Linked DNA regions of Homo sapiens. The protein of the gene in region 2 interacts with the protein of the main gene of each other region in a pairwise test. Each region holds a gene or a part of one and is shown on either strand. Other genes may lie near its edges.

Region 1 (7,023 bases), on a different chromosome or scaffold from region 2:
CTCAGCTGGCCCAAGTCCCCCATGCACAGAAGATAAGGGACCTCTGAGGTCATATAAAAAGAGCGAGCCAGGGCCAGCGTGAGGGCCAGCCCTCAGGTGGCTCTCTCCACTGCACAGGCTGCAGAGAATGCTGGCACAAATGACCAACAGATGCAAAACTGTGCAGGCAAGGTAGAAGAAGCGGCTGTGGAGGTGACTCCCCATCCCATAAGGCTTAGAGATGCACATACATGTCCCCTACCTAACTCAAAAGCTGTGTAAAACCTAAAAGAACCCACTAACAATGCAACAAATTGGAAACAGGCTTTTCAGGGCCTTGGGACTCCCTGACAGAAGGCACCAGGGTGGCCAGCAGCCCATCTCACTGATAGCAGTGACTCTCTAATGACCATGTTCCAAGGGCTCACAACCCTGCTCCTTACCAACTACTCAGCATTCCTACCAGTCACAAGCCCCAACTATAAGCCTGGCTGGACAGAAGCAACCCTTACTCCCTCTTGGGGAGGCTCCCCAGTTGTTGGCTTCCCCAATTCAAGGTCATCTTACTTCACAATGACACGCTAGTGAAAAATATTGGACTGGAAATGAGAGGTGGGGCTCCAGCCCAGAAGCATTAGCAACTCACAATGGGACTCTGGGACTCCAGGCAAGGCCTCCCTGTTCCCTGGGGCTCAGACTTCCCATTTGAACATATGGGAGAGGTGGTGGGTTCATTTCTTAGGCTTCAGCTCTCATTTCTGTGATTTTGGGAGCAAAGGGGGTCTGTGGAGCCCAGCAGGGGCCTCCGTTCATCAGGGATTCTGAAGGAGCCCAGATGTTCCCTCAAACTCACCAGAGACACTTTCTTCACCAAACTCCTAGTCCTTTCTGAAGCTTGTGCAGACTTAGAACAAATGTTTGCTGAGAACCTACCAGGGGCCAGGCACTTTGAGAGGCACTAAAGAAACATGAAGAAGTAAGAGAATTGTCTTCAAGCAACCATTTTTCAGAGACAGAAAGTGAGTCACAGAGAGGCCTCAAATTTTACTAAAGACAACACAGCTAAGAATTCAACCCCCAGGCTGCCTGATCCCTGCAGGTTATCTCCCAGGGCTCCAGGCCGGGTGAGACTAGCACTGGGATGTGAATACCACCAAAATCCCTTCCAGACACAGGGTATGGTCAGCTCTATGAAACTGGGATCTATTAAAAACAGGCAATCAGAATCCAGGGCAAACGCTGGCTGGCTGAGTGGATCTTCTTCTGAAATGCCCAGCCTGTCCCCCAAACCCATCTCCATACTGGGCCTGGACACTACCTTCTAACGTCCTTCTCTGAACCATCCATCTTAGGCAATGAGTATCAGCAGACAAGAGCCAGCCACGTGACCTCCATAACCCTCATGTACACACAGCACAGTAGCACTGTTCCTGGGCCCACCCAGTCCTCCCACAGCTGCCTTTCTTTTGGGCCCCCTTGTCAGAGAGGCACCAACCCAGGTGAACAGGACTGGTCTGCAGAGGCAGAGCTGGGGTCCTGTCCCGCAAGGACAGCCTTCTCCCAGAGCAGAGCTGACCAGAGCTCAGTTTGTCTCCCTGCAGCCCCATGCGAGAGGCCTCTGGAGGGATGCTCTGAAAGCCACTCCTTCCTACAGGTGGCAGAGGGGTCCCTGCCCTTCAATCTGGGCTTCCCGCCTCTAGGGACTAACCTGGTTTTCAGAGATGTTTTCCTGGGGAGGGAGCCGGGCAGCGGAGAAGCAGTCTCCCCCTCCCCCAGCTCTGGCCGACTGCCAGGGTGACCTCCCCTCCCCCAAGAAGGGCGGTGAGCTGGGAGGTGGGGGTGGGAAGAATCCACCGATGCTCTCTGGAGGAGTGCTGGGAAGCTAGGCAGGGCGTGTCGCCTGGGCCTTTCTCTGCCCAGAGCCAGACTTCACAGCCTCTCGGTGTGAGGTGCCCCTGTATCATTCCCCAAATCGCCTCGAGTTGGGGTAGCCCTCACTGCAATTGCCCAGATCCCTGGGCAGCAAGGAGACTAACAAGCGCCGGCGAAGGGCAGCGGGTCTAGAACCTTCTGTGCCCAGTCGGACGTGAGCCAGGGGAGGTAGGCTCCCCGTTCCCCCATGGCCTGCACTCGCTCTTTCGAGCAGAGACAGGTGTCGCTCTTTTCTCCCCGGTGGCTGTTTGTCCCACGCCCTGGACGTGCCCTTTCGCATGGTTCCCAGCAGGGTCCGCAGGGAACACCCCTCCAGTGCAGCGGAGTGAGGCCCGGCCAGACCCCAGCTTCGCTTCGTTCTCCAAGGGGGGCGCCCGTCGCTCTCCCCACCCCCGCCAGCACCCAGCCACCTGCGCGGTCGCCCGCAGCCGGTGCCGCAGTGTGAGCTAGCCAGCGAGCCCGGTTCCTTCACGCCCTGGCCAGCGCCGCGGAGCCAGCCGCCGCCCTCCGGGCCCCCTGCAGCGCCGCACCTGCACCCACACCCCGGGCCCCCCACCCAGAGCCCACCCTCACCTCCACCCCAGGCTCCAGCGCCTCCTCCGTCCTCACCCTTGGCCCCTCCCCAGCCCGACCCCGCCCCGACCTCCCCATCCCTGTCCCTCTCCTCTACCCTGGCAAGGAGGGGCCTTTCCGAGCCTGGGCCGGGGGTCCCAATGGGGTGGGCGATTGGGCGGCGGGGGTCGACTCGGCGACAAGCCAAGAGATTAAGCCGGGTACTTACCGCTCTGCTCCCCCAAGAACACCAACTTGAATTTTCTCAGTGGATTCCCAAAATCTCCCCCTGCGGACATGGTGCTGGCAGCCGGGGCCGGGAGAGGAGGAGGAGGAAAAAGCGAAGGAGCAGGGAGGGGAGAGTAGGAGGGCGAGGGGAGGCGGCCGGCGGTGCGGGAGCCGGAGGGGGAAGGGCTGGCTGCGCGCGTCCCTGACTCCCCAGCTGCGTCCCGGTCCCGGCCTGCGGCTGCGTGTCCGGCGGCGGAGGAGGAGGAGGAGAGAGAGGCGGAGGCGGAGGAAGGCTGGGGCTGGGCTGCTGCGGTCGGCACTGGCTGCGGTGCGAGGGGCGCGCTCTTTACGCCCGAGGCGCGGCGCTGGGAGAGAGGCGCGGGCGGAGCGGGGCGCAGGGACGGCGCGCGGGGCGGAGGAGCGCTCTCCAGAGCCGCGCCAGTCGGCCCCCTCCCGCCTGCCTCCTCCGCCGGCGCCTGCGCTCTGTGCGCTCCCCAGCCTCTGATGTCATGCGGGGCCCGCGGGGCTGCGGGGCTGGGGGGCGTGCGCCCGCCCACCCGAGCCCGCACCCGGGCAGGAGAGAACCTCCTCGCCGTACCCCTGAGAGCCCCCCGGGGGGGACCGTGTCTCGCTGCCCCGCTGCGTCTGTCTTCCCCACTCTACCCCTCTTTTGAATCCAGAAAATGACAGAAATTGTCAGGGGACATTTGTTTCTGGTCTTTTAAACCTAGATGCCAGTCCCTTCCTCCACCTCGCGAGACACCGATGCACAGCGCAGTCGTCCGACCGACAGGGCGGAAAGGAACGAAGGTGGGGGAGAGCCAGGGTGTGGCGAGGCCCGTCAGGGCGGTCAGACCTAGGGAAACCTGGCGTACTTGGCGCAGATGGGGCTCGACTCTTGCCCCCCGTGGCTTCTAGCCCGCCCTTCCCTCTCGAGGCCTAGACCCTTTATTTGGGCGGCCTCTTGTGGAGTCTGTGGGTGCCCCCGCAGACCTGGCCAGCGAGAGAGGAGCTGCCAATATCAGGCGCGCCTACCTCAAACCAGCTGCTCATTTGGATCATTTTATGCCAAATCCTAACCTGCCCCATGGGAGAGAAGGAACGGTGACGCTCTGAATGCCAGTGCCACTATCTCCAGGACAGTGCCCTGCGTTTCTTGATCCCGGGGTCGCCAGGCTGACAATGCCACTCCCCACCCTGGCAATTAGGTGTATCTGGACAATGAGCTATCTGAGGACATGTGGGCGACCTCTCCTTGGCCTCTACTTGCCTGGTCCATCGAGGCACACAGACCAAGTTGTGAGTGAGTGAGAGCAAAGAGCAGACGCCAAGTGCTAGAAACACTCCCAAGACAGCCCGAGCCTAAGGCATGCTGGTTAATTGAGGTTTTACAAAGCTGTCCCTTACTGTTCTGCCACAGCGTGGTCTTGTTCATTTATGGCTGTTCAGTGAGCATTTATTTGAGATAATAATCTGCATGTCGGTGAACACGATGGTGTGTGCACGCATGTGTTATAGAAAGAGAAAGAGGAGTGAGACACAACCTTCACCTCCAGATTTCTCGTGGACACTTGTTACCCCCTTTTTGACTTATGGGGCTTGCTTGGGCAAGCCTATCTGTCTCCCTGGTGTGCTCACCTCGAATCTCTTTCCTATTTCTTGTTAGAAACCTGACCACAAGTTCCATAAAAGCAGTAGTTGAAGCTCCACCACTGCATCCCAAGGACATAGCTCAGAGTTTAAGAAATAGTTGTTGAATGTTTGAATGAACATCTAGAACTCAAATCAAAATAACTGTCCTATTCTCATAATTACCTTTAGTTTGGAACCCCAGGGATTGTAAGTCATCACCTAGAATATCTGCCCCGTTGTGGCTGGCACCAGGCTCAGGGTAACCCTCCAGACACCCACCCACTTCTCTGGGGCTCCTGCTCTCTTAGGAGACCATATCCAGCTTGGGGTTGAAGAAAGCTCTGAAAGGAGAGGAGACTCCCAAGTCACAGCCCTTCCCGTCTCTATAAGTGATCCCTCCAAAGAAGGGCCAGTGAGCTACTGGCCAAGGTACCCAGCCATGCAACACTCCTCCAACCTGCACCTTCTCCTAACATCTAGTGCTGTCTCCCTGTACCCTCTCATCCTGACCTGATGAGATCATCGGTGGCAAGACAAAACAGCTGAGGTGTGCCAGAAAAGGCACCATCTTTTGGGTAAGCCTAGGCAGGTCCTGTACCTCCTCTGATCATCTGGTCCCGCACATGTAAGGTGGTATGGCAGTAGGGGAGGGAGGGCTGGGGCAGGGCCCCTCTGGGCACCTCTAAGCCTCCAAGTCATCCCATATGCTTACCAGGTCCAGCTGGGCTGACTATGGTCCAGCTTACTTTGGGGGACTCTGTCATAATTCTTCCAGTTCAAATGACAAAAACCCGGCTCCGACTACCGGGCTCACGTCGCTGGAGCAGATACTGGCATTGCTCTCAGAATGCAGTCATCATGCTGTGGAAATGAGAGCCTTAGAGACTCCAAGTTTGCTCTGCTCCAAGTCTCTCTCCTCCAACTATCATTGCTTATCTCCCCTGATTTTGAGTCTTGTCCTTAACCTGCCCTAAAGCAGACAGACTTTCTCCAGGTGGAAAATGGGGCCACTGAACCTCAGCCTGGCAACCTCACTAGAAAGAGTTTCTTCCATATCATAGAATCTGTGCATTCCATTTAAAAAAATTCTTTAAATCTTCCTATTTAGTATGTGCTGTGTATATGTAAGTTACAAAGAAAACCTATCACTCTGAGTGCCCATTTACCCTCTACACAGCTGGAGGGCTCAAATATTATAGTACTTTTCAGGCCCCCAGGTGCTTTCTTCTCCTTCCTCCCTCCCCAACTTGGAAATCCAGAATCTTAGCTTTTCTTTGAGTTTTATCACATTGGATGTGTCCTTCACAATACTTTGTTTTGTTTTGCATCTTTTGAATCTTATATAAGGTATCAAACTGTGTTTTCTGTCCTGACTTGCATGTTTCTTAACATCATGTTTCTGAGATCCATTTGTTAATTCATGTAGCAGCAGTTCTTTCATTTTCACTGCTGGTTAGTATTCTAGTTATGCCCCAATTTTTAAATGATTTTCTGTAAAATGTGTCATTTAAAATTTTTATTTTATTTTATTTTATTATTGTTGTTATTATTTTTGAGATGGAGTCTTGGTCTGTCACCAGGCTGGAGTGTAGCGGCGCCATCTCGGCTCACTGTAACCTCCGCCTCCCAGGTTCAAGCAATTCACCTGCCTCAGCCTCCCGAGTAGCTGGTACTACAGCCACGCACCACCAGGTCTAGCTAATTTTTTTATTTTTAGTAGAGCCGAGGTTTCACCATGTTGACCAGAATGGTCTCAATCTCTTAACCTCGTGATCCGCCTGCATCAGCCTCCCAAAGTGCTGGGATTACAGGTGTGAGCCACCACGCCTGGCCTTTTTTAAAATTATTTTAAATAATTTTATACTCACATAGAGGTTATAAAAAACAGTGCAGGGAGTTACTATGTATCCTGCACCAAGCTACCCCAGTGATAACATCTTACATAACCACATTGCTTAGTAAAACCAGGAAATTAACATTGGAAAATGCACTCAGTTTTGTTTCTGCTATTAACAAACAATGCTGCCATCAACATTCTTTACATGTCTCTTGATGCCTCTGTGAAGTTTTTCTAAGATATGTGTCAGTAGGTAAATTGTGGTATAAAAACAAGTGTACGTTTAATTTTGTGCCAAACTATTTTTCAAAGATATTCGTTAGATCATATAGCACTACAGCATCATCTATATTTTTCATTTTCTTCAAGATCTTGGTTTTCCTGAGCCCTTTGCTGTGTTATATATATATATATATATATTTAAATTAAATTTTTGAGATCATTGTAGATTCACAAACAGGAAAAAAAAAAAAGACAGATCTGTATATCCTTTATCTAGTTTTCACCAAGAGTAAGATCTTGCAGAACTTTATACTACAGTATCATAATGTGGATACTGGAATTAAGACAGTCAAGGTACATTTCTGTTCTGTACCTTGACACACAAAGAGCCCTCATGTTCCCCTTTTATAGCCACACCCACTTTCCTCCCACCCTCAACCCCTTCCTAACCTCTGGCAACCACTAATCTGTTCTTCATTTCAATAAATGTGTTATTTCAAGAATCTTATATAAGTGGCATTACACAGTATATCACCCTTTGGGATTGTTTTTTTCACTTCACCTGGCTGGAGCACTCAAATATTACAGTACTTTTGAGGCCCTCAGGTGTTTCTGCCCCTCCCTCTCTCCCCAGCTTGAAA
Region 2 (7,852 bases):
TTTAAAAATTAGCCAGGCATGGGCTGGCACGGTGGTTCACACCAGTAATCCCAGCACTTTGGGAGGCCCAGGAGGGTGGATCACTTGATGTCAGGAGTTCGAGACCAGCCTGGCCAACATGGTGAAACTCTGTTTCTACTAAAAATTAAAAAAAAAAAAAAAAAAAAATTGGCCATGCGCGGTGGCTCACGCCTGTAATCCCAGCACTTTGGGAGGCCGAGGCGGGTGGATCACAAGGTCAGGGGATTGAGACCATCCTGGCTAACATGGTGAAACCCTGTCTCTACTAAAAAATACAAAAAAATTAGCCGGGCGTGGTGGCACGCGCCTGTAGTCCCAGCTACTCGGGAGGGCTGAGGCAGGAGAATGGCGTGAACTTGGGAGGCAGAGCTTGCAGTGAGCTGAGATCACGCCACTGCACTCCAGCCTGGGCGACAGAGCGAGACTCCGTCTCAAAAAAAAAAAGAAAAAAAAATTAGCTGGGCGTGGTGGCAAGCGCCTGTAATCCCAGCTACTCAGGAGGCTGAGGCAGGAGAATCCCTTGAACCCGGGAGGTGGAGGTTGCAGTGAACCGAGATCATGCCATCGCACTCCAGCCTGGGGGACAAGAATGAGATTTCATCTCCAAAAAAAAAAAAAAAAAAAGATATTAGCCAGGCATGGTGGCACTTGCCTGTAGTCCCAGCTACCAGCTACTCCAGAAGCTGAGGCGGGAGAATCACTTGAGCCCAGGAGTTCGAGGCTGCAGTGAGCTGTGATAGCGCCACTGCACTCCAGACTGAGTGACAGAGTGAGACCCCGGTCTCTAACAACAACAACAACAAAATAGCATCACAATCAAGTTGATTTTTGAGGAGCCAAAGAACAATAACAAAAATAGCCTCACAAAACAATGCTTAATATTTGCTCTGGGCAAATAGATCCAGATAAAGGCCTGGAGGGAAGCCACACCACAGTAACCACATTAACTTGGGGAGCCGGCCAGGCTCCCCAAGTGCGGTCAGAGTGGACTTTACCCTTCTCTGTTACGTTTCCATTCTTTACCAGGAGAGTGTGCTCATGAAAATGTGTACGATTAAAAATTAACTTTCAAAAGGCACTAAGCACAGAGGCTGGCCCGTAGACAAATTAATAGGCTGTTCTTATTCAGGTTGTTATGTTTGTGGAGCAAAAGGTCAGAGGGAGGAGTCAGAACTGTGCCTAGGCCCTGCCACTTTTGTTCCAGTTCTTTTATTCATTTATTTGTTTGTTTGAGACGGAGTTTCACTCTTGTTGCCCAGGCTGGAGTGCAATGGCACAATCTTGGCTCACTGCAACCTCCACCTCCTGGGTTCAATCGATTCTCCTGCCTCTGCCTCCCCAGTAGCTGGGACTACAGGCACACGACACCACGCCCATCTACTTTTTGTTTTGTTTTGTTTTGAGACTGAGTCTCCCTCTGTCGCCCAGGCTGTAGTGCAATGGCACATTCTCGGCTCACTGCAACTTCTGCCTCTCGGGTTCAAGTGATTCTCCTGCCTCAGCCTCCCGACTAGCTAGGATTACAGGTGCATGCCACCACGCCTGGCTAATTTTTTGTATTTTTAGTAGAGATAGGGTTTCACGATATTGGTCAGGCTGGTCTTAAACTCCTGACATCGTGATCTGTCTGCCTCGGCCTCCCAAAGTGCTGGGATTACAGGCGTGAGCCACTGAACCCAGCCTAATTTTTGTATTTTTAGTAGAGACGGGGTTTCACCATGTTAGCCAGACTGATCTAGAATTCCTGACCTCAGGTGATCTGCCCACCATGGCCTCCCAAAGTGCTGGGATTACAGGCGTGACCCACAAGCAAATGGCCCACCTTTGCTCCAGTCCTGCTATCTTCCTCCCGGATCCACCCCTGCAGGAAGGCCTCCAGGGCCCAAGCCAGGGCAACTTCACCACAGAGGATGGGGAGGGGCATTCGGGACCTAAGAGAGGAGGCTAAGACCTGGGTTCCCATCAGCCACTGCCCAGTAAAGCCCATCCCACTGCTCCCCCACGCTAGGAGACCTGTTGGTTGGTCCTTGAGGCCCCCAGACTGGAGGGTGGGTTACCCACAGGGAGGGCATGAATGAAGCCTGCTTACTGATGCATCCAGCTGGTGAGGGGGCTTTTGGGGACTCACTCACAATGAGACCCAATGGGAGAAAAACTGAGCAGAGGTAAGAGGCTCAACACAGCGAGAGTCTTTAGAAGAAAACTAGACTCTTACCCTCACTATTCCTCAGTGTCCTCACAGCAAACAGGCTAGGCCTGGAGCCTCTCACATCCGGGTGGGTAGAGCTCATAAACGAATTTGAAAAGAAGCCCTCTCTGCTCCACGACTGGGGGTGGAAGGTAAAGTGGGTGATGGGGCTTCAGAAACTAGACCCAGTCCCAGGCCTGCAAAGGTCGGGGTGGGAAGACTCCGAGACGCCCTGTCTCCCACCAGATGATGACTGACGCTTGGCTGTGTGCTTGTGTGCCTGGAACCCCGGTTCAGAAGCCAGCTCCGACCACTGGTGTGTCGTAGGGCTGAACTAGGGTGGGATCCCCAGCTCAGGAGGCGGGGGCGTCCGTGAGCCAGGCCTTAGCGGCGTGTGACAGCCTCCGGGGAGGGAGGGAGCTAGGCCCCTGCTCGCAGCCTCCTCCCTCCAGTACTGGATCCAACCCCAGCACTCCCAAGCAGAACACAGGCAAGGACGCTGCGGGGTCAGTGACGTGAGGGCCAGGTCCCCTCACTCCCGGTGGGTGGCCCCGGATGTCAGGGGGCCGGGTACCGCCGCATCCCACACTCGGTCCCCGGGTGTCCACGGTCACGCTGCTGCAGACCCCACACTCAGCCTCGGGGGTGTCCGCGTGACACTCCCGGTGGGAGCTTCCAATCTTCAGGGTCCTACCTGGCGAGCCGGCGTGAGGGTCCCGTCCACGTCAAACAGGCAGAGGACGCGCTCCTTCCTGCGGGCTGCCTGGGCGGTGACTGCCATGGCTGCAGGTCCGCGCGCGGGGCGGAGTCCCGAAGATGCAACGGCAGAAGCAGCTCAGGGATAAGTGCTGACGGGGCGGGGCATTAGGGGGCGGGGGCCAGTGGACTGCCTGATTGGCCAAATGAAGAAGGGGCGTGGTCTAGGCGGGCGGAAGCGGGGGCGGGGCCTGAGCTGATTCTCATTGCTCGTGGAGGAGGGGAGCGCGGCATAGGGCGGAGCGGAGCCCTCCAGGTTCGATTGGATTGCTCCAAACAAGGCGGAGGAGGGGCCTGAGCCTGGGACCCGCAGGAAGTGAGAGGGTGAACCCGGAAGACAGGGGCGGGGCCAGAATTGGCGGGTTGATAGTGATTGCAACAGGCCGATTAAGGGGCTGGGTCGGGCGGGGCCTCTACCATGCAGTGCAGTGTCTAGTGGGCCAGGCGGGACTAAGAGAGCCGAGGTCGCTCCCCATCCACTCTCACAAGGTTTGTGGCCATCTCTTTGCCTTACAAATTTTGAGCTGTAGGAAATCTCCTGAGCCGGGCGCGGTGGTTCACGCCTGTAATCCCAGCAGTTTGGGACGTCGAGGCGGGCGGATCACCGGAGGTCGGGAGTTCGAGACCAGCCTGACCAACATGGAGAAACCTCGTCTCTACTAAAAATACAAAATTAGCCAGGCGTGGTGGCGCATGCCTGTAATCTCAGCTACTCAGGAGGCTGAGGCAGGAGAATCGCTTGATTCCAAAGAAGCCAGAGGTTGCGGTGAGCCGAGATCGCGCCATTGCACTCCAGCCTCAAAAAAAAAAAAAAAAAAAAAAAAGGAAAGAAAAGAAAAGAAAAGAAATCTCCTGAAGGCCTTTGTTCAGGCTTTGGACTTTGCCAAATTGCCTTCCCCGAGCCTTATTCCTTCTGTCCACACATAAGACCCAGCTCTCAGGGTCTACCTGCTTGGAGACCTTCCCAGATTCTTCTTTTTTTTTTTTTTTTTTGAGACAGAGTCTCGCTCTGCCCAGGCTGGAGTGCAGTGGCGGGATCTCTGCCCACTGCAACCTCCACCTCCCAGGTTCAAGCGGTTCTCATGCCTCAGCCTCCCGAGTAGCTGGGACTGCAGGCGTGTGCCACCATGCCCACCTAATTTTTGTATTTTTACTTACTTTTATGTTTATTTTATTTTATTTTTGACACAGGGCGATTTATTTATTTATTTATTTATTTTTTGAGACTGGGTCTCACTCTGTTACTCAGGTTGGAGTGCAGTGGCATGATCTCGGCTCACTGCAACCTCCGCCTCCCAGGTTCAAGTGATTCTCCTGCCTCAGCCTCCTGAGTAGCTGAAACTACAGAAGTGCGCCACCACGCCCGGCTAATTTTTTTTTTTTTTCTGAGACGGAGTTTTGCTCTTGTTGCCCAGGCTGGAGTGCAATGGCACGATTTCAGCTCACCACAACCTCTGCCTCCCGAGTAGCTGGGATTATTTTGTACCCACTACCACGCTCGGCTAATTTTTTATTTTTAGTAGTAATTTTGTATTTTCACCATGTTAGCCAGGCTGGTCTCGAACTCCTGGCCTCAGGTGATCTGCCTGCCTCAGCCTCCCAAAGTGCTGGGAATACAGGCATGAGCCACCGTTCCCAGCCAACCTTCCCAGATTCGATTCACAATTATTTAACCATTGCGTTGACTTTGGAGTCACTTCCAGGTTGCCTTCCCAGCTCCACCACTATGGGACCTTGGACAAGTCACTTCACCTCTCAGAGGCTTTGTGTCTTCACCTATAAAATGGGATGAACACCACCTGCTTTGTAGGTTTGCTTTTCACATGAAAATAAGTAACAGGCTGGGCGCGGTGGCTCACGCCTGTAATCCCAACACTTTGGGAGGCCGGGATGGGCAGATCACCTGAGGTCATGAGTTTGAGACCAGCCTGGCCAACATGGGGAAAGTCCGTCTCTACTAAAAATACAAAAATTAGCCGGGCATGGTGGCAGGAGCCTGTAATCCCAGCTACTTGGGAGGCTGAGGCGGAAGAATCACTTGAACCTGGAAGGCGGTGGTTGCAGTGAGCCGAGATGATGCCACTGCGCTCCAGCCTGGGAGACAGAGGGAGACTACACCTCAAACAAACAAACTAACTAACTAACTAACTAACTAAATAAATAAAAAATAACTGTAGAGCTGGATGCGGTGGCTCACACCTGTAATTCCAGCACTTTGGGAGGCCAAGGTGGGTGGATTGTTTGAACCCAGGAGGTCAAGATCAGCCTGGGCAACATGGCAAAATGCTGTCTCTACTAAAAATACAAAACATTAGCCAGGCATGGTGGCAGGCACCTGTGGTCCCTCAGGAGGCTAAAGTAGGAGAATCACCAGGAAGCTGAGGCTGCAACGAACCAGATCTTCCCACTGCACTCCAGCCTGGGTAACAGTAGTGAGACCCTGTCTCAAGAAAAAAAAAAAAAAAGATGCAGATCATATGAGTCAGCAATTCAACTTTTAGAAAATAGGAAAAGAGGCTGAGCGCGGTAGCTCACGCCTGTAATCCCAGCACTTTGGGAGGCCAAGGCAGGCAGACCACAAGGTCAAGAGATCGAGACCATCCTGGCTAACGTGGTGAAACCCCGTCTCTACTAAAAATACAAAAAATTAGCCAGGCGTAGTGGCGGCACCTGTAGTCCCAGCGACTCGGGAGGCTGAGGCAGGAGAATCCCTTGAACCCGGGAGGCGGAGCTTGCAGTGAGCCGAGATCACACCACTGCACTCCAGCCTGGGCCATAGAGCGAGACTCTGACTCGGAAAAAAAAAAAAAAAGGCCAAGCGCGGTGGTTCACACCTGTAATCCAGCACTTTGGAAGGCTGAGGTGGGCGGATCACGAGGTCAGGAGATCGAGACCATCCTGGCTAACACGGTGAAACCCCATCTCTACTAACAATACAAAAAATTAGCTGGGCGTGGTGGCGGGTGCCTATAGTCCCAGTTACTTGGGAGGCTGAGGCAGGAGAATGGTGTGAACCTGGGAGGCGGAGCTTGCAGTGAACCGAGATCACGCCACTGCACTCCAGCCTGGGCAACAGAGCAGACTCCGTCTCAAAAAAAAAAGAAAGAAAAGAAAATAGAAAAAAGGAAAAATATATGGAATTGTTTAAATGAACTAAGACCCATCTAGAAGATGAAATGCTACGAAGCCATGAAAATCTGCATTGTGTTTGTGTGCGTGTGCACGTGTGTGTGTAGAATAGGGTCTCACTATTTTGTCCAGGCTGCTCTCAAACTCCTGGCCTCAAATGGTCCTCACGACTCAGCCTCCCAAAGTGTTGGGATTACAGGCGTGACCAAAGTGTTGGGATTACAGGCCTGACCCACCGCACCAGATCCCCAGGCACAATTCTTGTTTTTCTGACTGGGTAGCTATGGTGTCCTGGAGAGATCATTGGAGTTGGAATCAGGAGAACTGCAGTTTGGTCCTGGCTAACTACAAGGACTTGGACAGGTCACCTTTCCTCACTGGGCTTCAGTTTCTTTATATGTAATGAGGATATAAACCCCACGTGATAGAACTATGAAAGGTGATGAGAGGTGACAGCGTACTAGCAGCCCTCGCTCACTCTTGGTGCCTCCTCAGCCTCGGCGCCCATTCTGGCCGTGCTTGAGGAGCCCTTCAGCCCGCCGCTGCACTGTGGGAGCCCTTCTCTGGGCTGGCCGAGGCCGGCGCCGGCTCCCTCGGCTTGCGGGGAGGTGTGGAGGGAGAGGCACGGGCGGGAACCGGGGCTGCAAGCGGCGCTTGCGGGCCAGCTAGAGTTCTGGGTGGGCGTGGGCTTGGCGGGCCCCGCACTCAGAGCGGCAGGCCGTGCCGGCCCGAGCAGTGAAGGGCTTAGCAGCCGGGCCAGCAGCTGTGGAGGGTGCGCCGGGTCCCCCAGCAGTGCCGGCCCACCGGCGCTGCGCTCGATTTCTCACAGGGCCTTAGCTGCCTCCCCGCTGGGCAGGGATCGGACCTGCAGCCCGCCATGCCTGAGCCTACCCTCTGCCGTGGGCTCCTGCGCAGACAGAGCCTCCCCGGCGAGCGCCGCCCCCTGCTCCATGGCGCCCAGTCCCATCGACCACCCAAGGGTTGAGGAGTACGGGCGCACGGCGCGGGACTGGCAGGCAGCTCCACCTGCAGCCCCGGTACAAGATGCACTGGGTGAAGCCAACTGGGCTCCTGAGTCTGGTGGGGACTTGGAGAACCTTTATGTCTAGCTAAGGGATTGTAAATACACCAATCGGCACTCTGTATCTAGCTCAAGGTTTGTAAACACACCAATCAGCAGCCTGTCTAGCTCAGGGTTTGTGAATGCACCAGTCGACACTCTGTGTCTAGCTACTCTGGTGGGGACTTGGAGAACCTTTGTGTCCACACTCTGTAACTAGCTAATCTAGTTGGGACGTGGAGAACTTTTGTGTCTAGCTCAGGGATTGTAAAGGCACCAATCAGCACCCTGTCAAAACGGACCAATCAGCTCTCTGTAAAACAGACCAATTGGCTCTCTGTAAAATGGACCAATCAGCAGGATGTGGGTGGGGGGGTGGGGGAGGCGGTGGGGGGGTGGGGGAGGCGGTGGGGGGGTGGGGGTGGGGGCGGGGGTGGTGGCGGGGGTGGGGGGGGCGGTGGGGGCGGGGGGTGGCGGGGGTGGGGGTGGGGGGCCAGATAAGAGAATAAAAGCAGGCTGCCAGGAGCCAGCAGTAGCAACCCTCTGGGGTCCCCTTCCGCAACGTGGAAGGTTTGTTCTTTCGCTCTTTGGGTCCACACTGCCTTTATAAACTGCAACACTCACTGCGAAGGTCTGCAGCTTCACTCCTGAAGCCAGTGAGACCACGAACACAACCAGCAGGAACGAATAACTCCAGA
Region 3 (8,124 bases), on a different chromosome or scaffold from region 2:
AATGGGGACACACTGAACAAAAAAGAATAGTTTTTATCTTCATGGGAGTTGCATTCTTCTGTGGGAAATAAAAACAAACACATAAAAAATAAGATAATTGTAAATGTGGTAAATGCTATTAAGAAGAAACAAGGCTTTGCCATAGATTACAGTCTTTGAAAGCTGAATTGTGGAATTCTAACAGACCTAAAAATAAATAATTCATGAAGAGTTACATCAAAAGGACATGGAGTCTACAGACTTCTAACGCATAAGAAAACTATAGACACTGACCATGAAAACAGAGATCAATCTTTCATTGTCAAAGCTAATGAATGGCATTACTTGACAATATAGTAACCTCAAAAGATAATTAACTTCACATCCTGAATTGAATGCTGAAACAGAAAAAGGACATTAGGTTAAAACTAAAAATCTAAATAAACTATGGACTTAAGTTAATAATAACATATCAATATTAGTTCATTAATTGTTAACAAATGTGCCATACTAATGCAAGATGTTGATAACAGGGGAAACTAGATGTGTGGGTATATGGGAACTCTACACTATCTTTTCAATTTTTCTGTAAGTCTAAAACTGTTCTAAAAAATGAAGTCTATTAAAAAAAATCTAACCAGGCTTCAGTAATGGAGGGGGGAGGGTAGTAGAGGCTTAAACAAGGTACGAAATTAGAAGCCATAAAACTCTCCATTATGCATTAGAACATACACAAATACTCAAGAAATTCAAAGGAAACCTGAAGATACTTAGGAAGTTAAGCACTCCATTCATGCTAAAACCTTTTTAGGCAGGAAGATGAATAGGTTTTTTCATGCAAACTAAATAGCTGTGCATCACAACATAAGGAAGGCAATAATATCCTTAGAATGCACAATAAGCACTTTGGATCCTTTTTATCAATAATAACCAATAAACTATATTTTATGTTTGGGAACTATCCTGATATTGACACAGAAAAGCTGGACTAGAAGCAACTCCATAGGTTCTACCAAGTTACTCACCTAAAGACACAAGTTTATACTTACTTCAGGAAAATATATAAGCAAAAAGGAGGGAGATTGTATTTTTCCCCCCAAAAGGGAGGAGGGGAAGATAATCTACACATGAAAGGAGAAAAATGATTTCCCAGTTCTAACTGGAGGCAATTTTGCAAGAGTATTAACCTCTGTGATGGCATACAAATTAGTATAAATAGTTCAAAGTAGTAATAAAAGCTACGAATTTATATCACTTACATGCCTTCCAGTCAAAACAAATAACTAATGTTTTCTATAACCTCACCTAAAACACCTAGTAGGTACTCAATGTTTGATGACTCAGAACTAATCTCTCAATGTCTGAATTTTAAAGATGGGCATGCAAAGTATGAGAAAAACAAAGGAGGGTAATCATCTCTGAATTGTCGAGTGTCAAGTTTGTATAATACAGCATAAAACTGGAATTACTACAAGAAGTAATCGTAGATACAACCATCACAAAATTAGGATCTAGTATCTAATACAAAAGTACAGTGACAGCAGAACCTGACCAGGTAAATGACATAACAATTTCACTCATCAGACAGTACAGAATATTAAGCATAAAAGAATTATTTAGCCCAAATGGTATTTAAATCTAATTTAGGTAACTAGATGATGAGTCTGTTCCTACTCTACTCCATTTTCCAAAGGAAATCCGACAAAACAAAGATGTTTGTTATTCCAAGCCTTCTCTCACATGAATCCTCAATATATCATTGGAAAATACTCAAGAAGGAATGAATAATTAACATTTCCCCAGTAATTCCCTTTTGTACCACCATGAGACTCAGACGCTGCTTCATGTTGAAAAGAGAAAAAGGGGAGGTGAGATGAGAAAAATTCCAAGTAAAATGATCATGACATAGCATCTGGCAGAGATTGAAAAATCATCAACATTGCCAAAAGAATTGTCAGTGATGAAAGTCAAGAGAACAAAATGAGGTTTTCCGACAAGCCACAGCCCCATCTAACCTAAGGGGCAAAAATCTCCACTGCCGACGCTACCCCTTTCACCCCCAACCACCCCATGCTCAAGTCGTCTCCAATTCAGATGTTTCCTCTATGGCCCAGACTAATTTCCCACCCAGGTGAAAATCATTTAATTTTTTCTACTACCACCCCTTCCCACCTTCCACGACATCAGCACTTCGCAGGGCCAAGCCTCTGGGGAAAACAACGCCCAGATCCCACCCTCCTTGGCCAAGGTTGAAGAGGGCCCGCTCTCGGGAGTGGGGCTTCCCTGAGTGGGCCTCACAGAGCTGAGGAACTGGGAAAAGAGCAAGGAATAAGGGTGGGGCTCAAGAAAGGGGGCCGGGGTACGGGCAATGACCGAGACCGGAGGAAGAAAGGGATGGACAAGAGGCTGGGCGGGGTGAGGTCTGGGGAGGGAGGGCAGATCGACCGGAGATGGCCGGACTGCGGGGAACGGAGCCGGGGAGTCGAGGATTGAAGAACCCGGGGAACAGGGTAAAAACTCGGCCACTGGCGAAGAGCCAGTGGCACCGGGGGGCACATCGGGAAGGGCTGCGGTGGCAACGAGCGCGGACGCGAGGCGGGCAGGGAGCCTCCGCGGACGGAAGGGCCGCACCGGGGGCGGTGCGGGGACGCTGCGGCCAGCTGCCAGGAGTAGGGGAGCCACGCACTCACCGCTTTGCTCCCCCAGGAACACCAGCTTGAATTTCCTCAGCGGATTCCCGAAGTCTCCGCCCGTGGACATTGTGGAACTAGAGGAGCGGCCGCCGCCTCAGCCTAGAGACCTCCCGGACCGATGCTGCTCCAGCCAGCTGACGAAAAAGGCGAGCGGAAGGGCGGGCACCGAGCTCTCTCGGCCCCTGCAAGGCCCGGTGGAGGAGCCCGGCTGGAGGGCAGCAGGACTCTCCACAGACTGGCAGCCGCCGCCGCCTCCCGGCAGAGTAGCCTAGCACCGAGCGAGGCCCGCGGCTGGGAAGGGAAGGAGGGCGGTGTCGGCAGGAGCCAGGGGTGTCCTCTGGCTTCCCAAAGCTAGGGCCGTTCCCTCCTTCCGCACTCGGCTCCCAGACCTGGGGAAGAGAAGCTGAGGGTGGCGGAGCCGGAACCGCAGACGTATCTGGGACCTCTCACGCGCAGCGCCTGAGCTTCCACAGCTGCCGCCGCCGCCGCAGCCCAACCTGCTGAGTGCGCGAGCCTCTGGAGCGGCGCGGGGCGAGCCCGGGCGCGAGCCTGCGGCCCCGCCGGCCGCTGGCGTGCGTGCGTGCGTGCATGCGTGCGCGCCACCGCCATCGCCATCGCCTTCCTGGTTTGGACAGCTCTACCGGCTCCTCCCGCACGGCGGCGACGGGGCAGGTTAGGTTTCCACTGGCGTCAAAAGAAGCCAGGAGGAGGCGGGGCAAGCCAGGGATAAGTTAGTGGGAGGCTGGAGCCCTTACGTCACTTACATAATGAGCCAATCGGAAGGGGCTGAGGGCGAGCCCACACGCGAGTGAGGTGGCAGCGTGAGAGCGCGCGCAGCCCTCGAGCTGTGGAAAGCGGAGCACTGTGGCGGCCATAAGAAGTGTGGCGCCTCTCAGCCTGAGGGGAGGGGAAGGAAAGAAAGGGGAGGGGGAGAAGGGTGGGGCGGAGGCGGGGCCGGGACAAAGGTGGAATATGATCCCCCAAAAAGTGTGGGTGGGGTCCTATAGCCTTAAAATTTGTAATGGGAGCCTCTTTCCTGAGCCCTCAGCCGTGCCTCACAGTCCTCAGATCCCTTCTTCACCATTGCACACACCCCACCTTCTCCATCCTCTCATCATAATTCCTCACAGGCATCTTACTAAATAACATTCTCCTCCATTGCTCCCAGGAATGTTATAACTGCCAGAATCATGGCCTCCCAATTTTGCAGATGAGGAAACTGAAGCTTAGAGGGAGTAAATGACTTGCAAAATCCATAAAGCGGGCTGGGCGCGGTGGCCCACGGCTGTAATCCCAGCACTTTGGGAGGCGGAGGCGAGTGGATCACGAGGTCAAGAGATCGAGACCATCCTGGCCAACATGGTGAAACCCTGTCTCTACTAAAAATGCAAAAATTAGCTGGGGGTGGTGGCGCGCGCCTGTAGTCCCAGCTACTCGGGAAGCTGAGGCAGGAGAATCGCTTGAACCCGGGAGGCGGAGGTTGCAGTGAGCCGAGATCACACCACTGCACTCCAGCCTGGCGACAGAGCGAGACTCCATCTCAACAGAAAAAAAAAAAAAAAAAAAAAAAAAAAGCCGGGCGTGGTGGCTCATCCCTGTAATCCCAGCACTTTGGAAGGCTGAGTTGGGTGGATCACCTGACGTCAGGAGTTCCAGACCAGCCTTGGCCAACATGATGAAACCCCATCTCTACTAAAAATACAAAAAATTAACGTGGTGTGGTGGCGGGTGCCTGTAATCCCAGCTACTTGGGAGGCTGAGGCAGGAGAATCGCTTGAACACGGGAGGCGGAGGTTGCAGTGAGCCAAGGTCACACCATTGCACTCCAGTCTGGGCAACAAGAGCGAGACTCTGTCTCCAAAAAAAAAAATCCATAAAGCAGCTGGGCGCGGTGGCTCACGTCTGTAATCCCAGCACTTTGGGAGGCCGAGGCGGTAGAATCGCTTGAGCCCAGGAGTTCGAGACCAGGCTGGGCAACAAAGCAAGACACTATCTCTACAAAAAATAAAATAGCCGAATATCGTGGTGTGCTCCTGTAGTTCCGGCTACTCAGGAGCCTGAAGCAGAAGGATTGCTTGAGTCCAGGAGTTGGAGGCTGAGGTATGGCACCACTACACTGAAATCTGGGTGACAGAACAAGTCCCTGTCTTAAAAAAAAAAAAAAAAAACAAAAAAACTTTCTAAGTGAATAATAAAAAATATGTCCTTACATTTGTGTCTATACACAAATGTATATCATTTGTGTATATCATTCACAAAACATTTATGTACTTTTTCTCATTATTGGGGAGTTATTTGCTTAGCTGTAGAAATGACAGGATTGAAAAAGTGCCTTCTCAGGCCCAGGGATGAATTGCTGACCTAGAATAAATTACAGGGAAGAACCAAAGTTCTTAAAATATCATCTATTCTGGCCTATCAAGACAACAGCTATATCCTCAAACCATCTCTATCAAAATTTACTCCCTTCTGGTTCCTCTCCCAGCCATGTGCAGGTAGAACATGCATCTAAAATAAAATGGTAAAAACCTGGCTTGTAGCATGGACATTTGATTTTACAAGTAGTTTGTCAGATCTAATAGGGTCCTCTCCACCATTAACCCAGAACCCTGGCACATACAAAGAGCAGCTTAAACCAAGAAACTTTTTAAAAAGATTATGCAAACAAAAGTGAGTAGCTATTTTCTTTCTGATGGGTACCAAGTTTTCATTATGCTTCCTGAAATAGACTTTAAAGTAACATCTGAGGATTGGAACTATAATTACTTTGTACTTCCTACAGAACTTTATGAATCAGTCCTCCCTGCTGCTTTGGTCTCTGTAGTCACCTAGACAGGTGGTACTGTTCCCTGTCATTTTGAAGGGCCTTATGGTCTAGTCCACCTCTTACCTAAAATGTTTTAATGTTTTAAGCTTTCATTTTGCATTGACACATACACAGCCTCATTATCCTCTGAAGCTGCCTTCATATTACCAAGTACTCTGTGTAAGTTTTGTCTTCAGAGACTTTATGGCCTAAACATTGCATATTAAGTGCTGTAGGGTATAGCAAATGGAAAAATTACTCAGGAGAAAGAGGAATTAGAGAGGCCCTTTTCAAGAGTATTTTCACCAACATTTTCACCTTCATGATTTCCTACGCTCACTTCTCTTTACTGCAAACACTCTTCCCCTCCCTTCCCCACTCTTCCCCAATTCCTACTCATCCTTCAGTTAAAGAAATTGTCTTTTTTTTTTTTTCTTTTAAATCACTTACCACTTAAAGAAGTTGTCTTTGTCCATTCAGGCTGCTATAACAGAATACCATGACTGGGTGGCTTAAACAACAAATGTTTATTTCTCACAGCTGGAGACTGGAAAGTCCAAGAGCAAGGTACCAGAAGATACTGTGTCTGGTGAAGGCCCACTTCCTGGTTCATAGACAACCATCTTCTCACTGTGCCCTCACATGGCAGAAAGAGAGCAAGAAAGCTCTCTGGGCTCCCTCTTACAAGGGAACTAATCCCATTTATGAGCACTCCACCCTCATGACCTAATCACCTCCCTAGGGTCCCACCTACTAATACCATCACATTGGGGACTATAGTTTCAACATATGAATTTTGGGGAGACACAAACATTCAGTCTACCACACAAGTCTTGCTCCCATCTGCTCCCATCCCCACTAACAGTATAAGTACCTTTGCCTGTCCTATTGTATCCTATTCTTAATTGCTGTTCATTGTCAGTGTTCCCTACTTGACTGTAACCTCCACGAGGTCAGATCTCATCTTGTATCCCCAGTGCTTGAAGAGTGCTTGCTACATAGTAAGCATGCAGCAGATGTTTGCTGACAAAATCAAATAAAAGAGGAATTATTTTTCACTGTCTTCAAAGGATGAATGGGATTTGGGCATGCAGAGAAGGAAGGTTAAGAGCATTTTGGAGAAAGAGAACATTACCCAAAAATATGTCATGTAATTTGATACTTCTTTCCTAAACCATTACTTATGAAAAAGATGCTGAGAACAGATCTTGTAACTAAAAATTAGGAACAATGGGAGAGGACAGTCTTCACAGCTCCAAATTCAAAGTACCTAAAGCAGCTTTCATTATCTATTTAAAGGTCATATCTAAATTGAAGCCCAGGAGTATGTAGGGAATCTATCACACAGAAATTGTAATAAAATTATAGCTTATCTTCTGCCCTGAGAGACACAAAACTTCTTGCAGGAGGACTGAATTTTTTTTTTTTTTTTTTTTTTGAGACAGAGTTTTGCTCTTGTTGCCCGGGCTGGAGTGCAATGGCGTGATCTCGGCTCACCGCAACCTCCGCCTGTCGGGTTCAAGCAATTCTCCCACCTCAGCCTCCTGAGTAGCTGAGATTACAGGCATGTGCCATCACGCCCAGCTAATTGTGTATTTTTACTAGAGATGGGGTTTCTCCATGTTGGTCAGGCTAGTCTCGAACCCCCGACCTTAGATGATCTGCCCATCTTGCTCTCCCAAAGTGCTGGGACTACAGGCGTGAGCCACTGTGCTTGGCTGAAATTTCTCTTTTTCCTTTTTGGAGACAGAGTCTTACTCTGTCCAGGCTGGAGTGCAGTGGCCGATCTCGGCTCACTGCAACCTCCACTTCCTGGGTTCAAGCGATTCTCCTGCCTCAGCCTCCTGAGTAGCTGAGATTACAGAAGTGTGCCACCATGTCCAGCTAATTTTTGTATTTTCAGTAGAGACGGGGTTTCACCATGTTGGCCAGGCTAGTCTCAAACTCCTGACCTCAAGTGATCCTCCTGCCTTGGCCTCCCAAAGTGCTGAGATTACAGGCGTGAGCCACTGCGCCCAGTCAATTTCATCTTATTCTTAGTGACAGACACTAGTGGTTGCATATCCAGCAATGCACACATAACACACACACATACTTCCACCATATATACTAGAAATGACAGATGTGTTTCCAGCCTCCCTTCAGCTAAGTTATAGGCACATGAGTCCATCTGAGCCAGTGGGAGATGAAGGAAATGTGCTAGAGGCTTTTTTTATTCTAAGAGAAGAAGAGAGATAGAGAGACATATTTTCTTCCTTGATGAAAAGGAATAAATGAGAAAAAACTGCCATTTTTCTGCCATTGATGTAGCTGTGTAAGGACATGATATTTAGAGCTAAGATAGCTCTTCTGAACATTGAAGCTCTGCCTCCCGGGTTCACGCCGTTTTCCTGCCTCAGCCTCCCGAATAGCTGGGACTACAGGCGCCTGCCACCATGCCCGGCTAATTTTTTTGTATTTTTAGTAGAGATGGGGTTTCACTGTGTTAGCCAGGATGGTCTTGATCTCCTGACCTCGTGATCTGCCCGCCTCAGCCTCCCAAAGTGCTGGGATTATAGGCGTGAGCCACCGCACCCGGCCGAACATTAATATATAATTCTAATGAAAAAAGCCAATCATTGATGACGGCTAAGCAGAAAGCTAAAA

Evidence for each region. Proteins that work in one complex are often made in the same cells at the same time.
Region 1: the proteins of PMM1 (region 2) and RAB6B interact in binary tests that used the Homo sapiens proteins (3 or more experiments, as listed by UniProt).
Region 3: the proteins of PMM1 (region 2) and RAB6A interact in binary tests that used the Homo sapiens proteins (3 or more experiments, as listed by UniProt).

The regions. Positions count from the first base shown.
Region 1 is NC_000003.12:133,892,705-133,899,727, forward strand, and holds the start of RAB6B (ras-related protein Rab-6B), read right to left. Parts: upstream 3,179-7,023; 5' UTR 2,763-3,178; coding exon 2,693-2,762; intron 1-2,692. UniProt on the Homo sapiens protein: The small GTPases Rab are key regulators of intracellular membrane trafficking, from the formation of transport vesicles to their fusion with membranes. Rabs cycle between active GTP-bound and inactive GDP-bound states.
Region 2 is NC_000022.11:41,586,816-41,594,667, forward strand, and holds the start of PMM1 (phosphomannomutase 1), read right to left. Parts: upstream 3,026-7,852; 5' UTR 2,991-3,025; coding exon 2,904-2,990; intron 2,349-2,903; coding exon of another isoform or gene 2,237-2,348; intron 1,953-2,236; coding exon of another isoform or gene 1,844-1,952; intron 1-1,843. UniProt on the Homo sapiens protein: Involved in the synthesis of the GDP-mannose and dolichol-phosphate-mannose required for a number of critical mannosyl transfer reactions. In addition, may be responsible for the degradation of glucose-1,6-bisphosphate in ischemic brain.
Region 3 is NC_000011.10:73,757,897-73,766,020, forward strand, and holds the start of RAB6A (ras-related protein Rab-6A), read right to left. Parts: upstream 3,179-8,124; 5' UTR 2,740-3,178; coding exon 2,670-2,739; intron 2,200-2,669; exon of another isoform or gene 2,152-2,199; intron 1-2,151. UniProt on the Homo sapiens protein: The small GTPases Rab are key regulators of intracellular membrane trafficking, from the formation of transport vesicles to their fusion with membranes.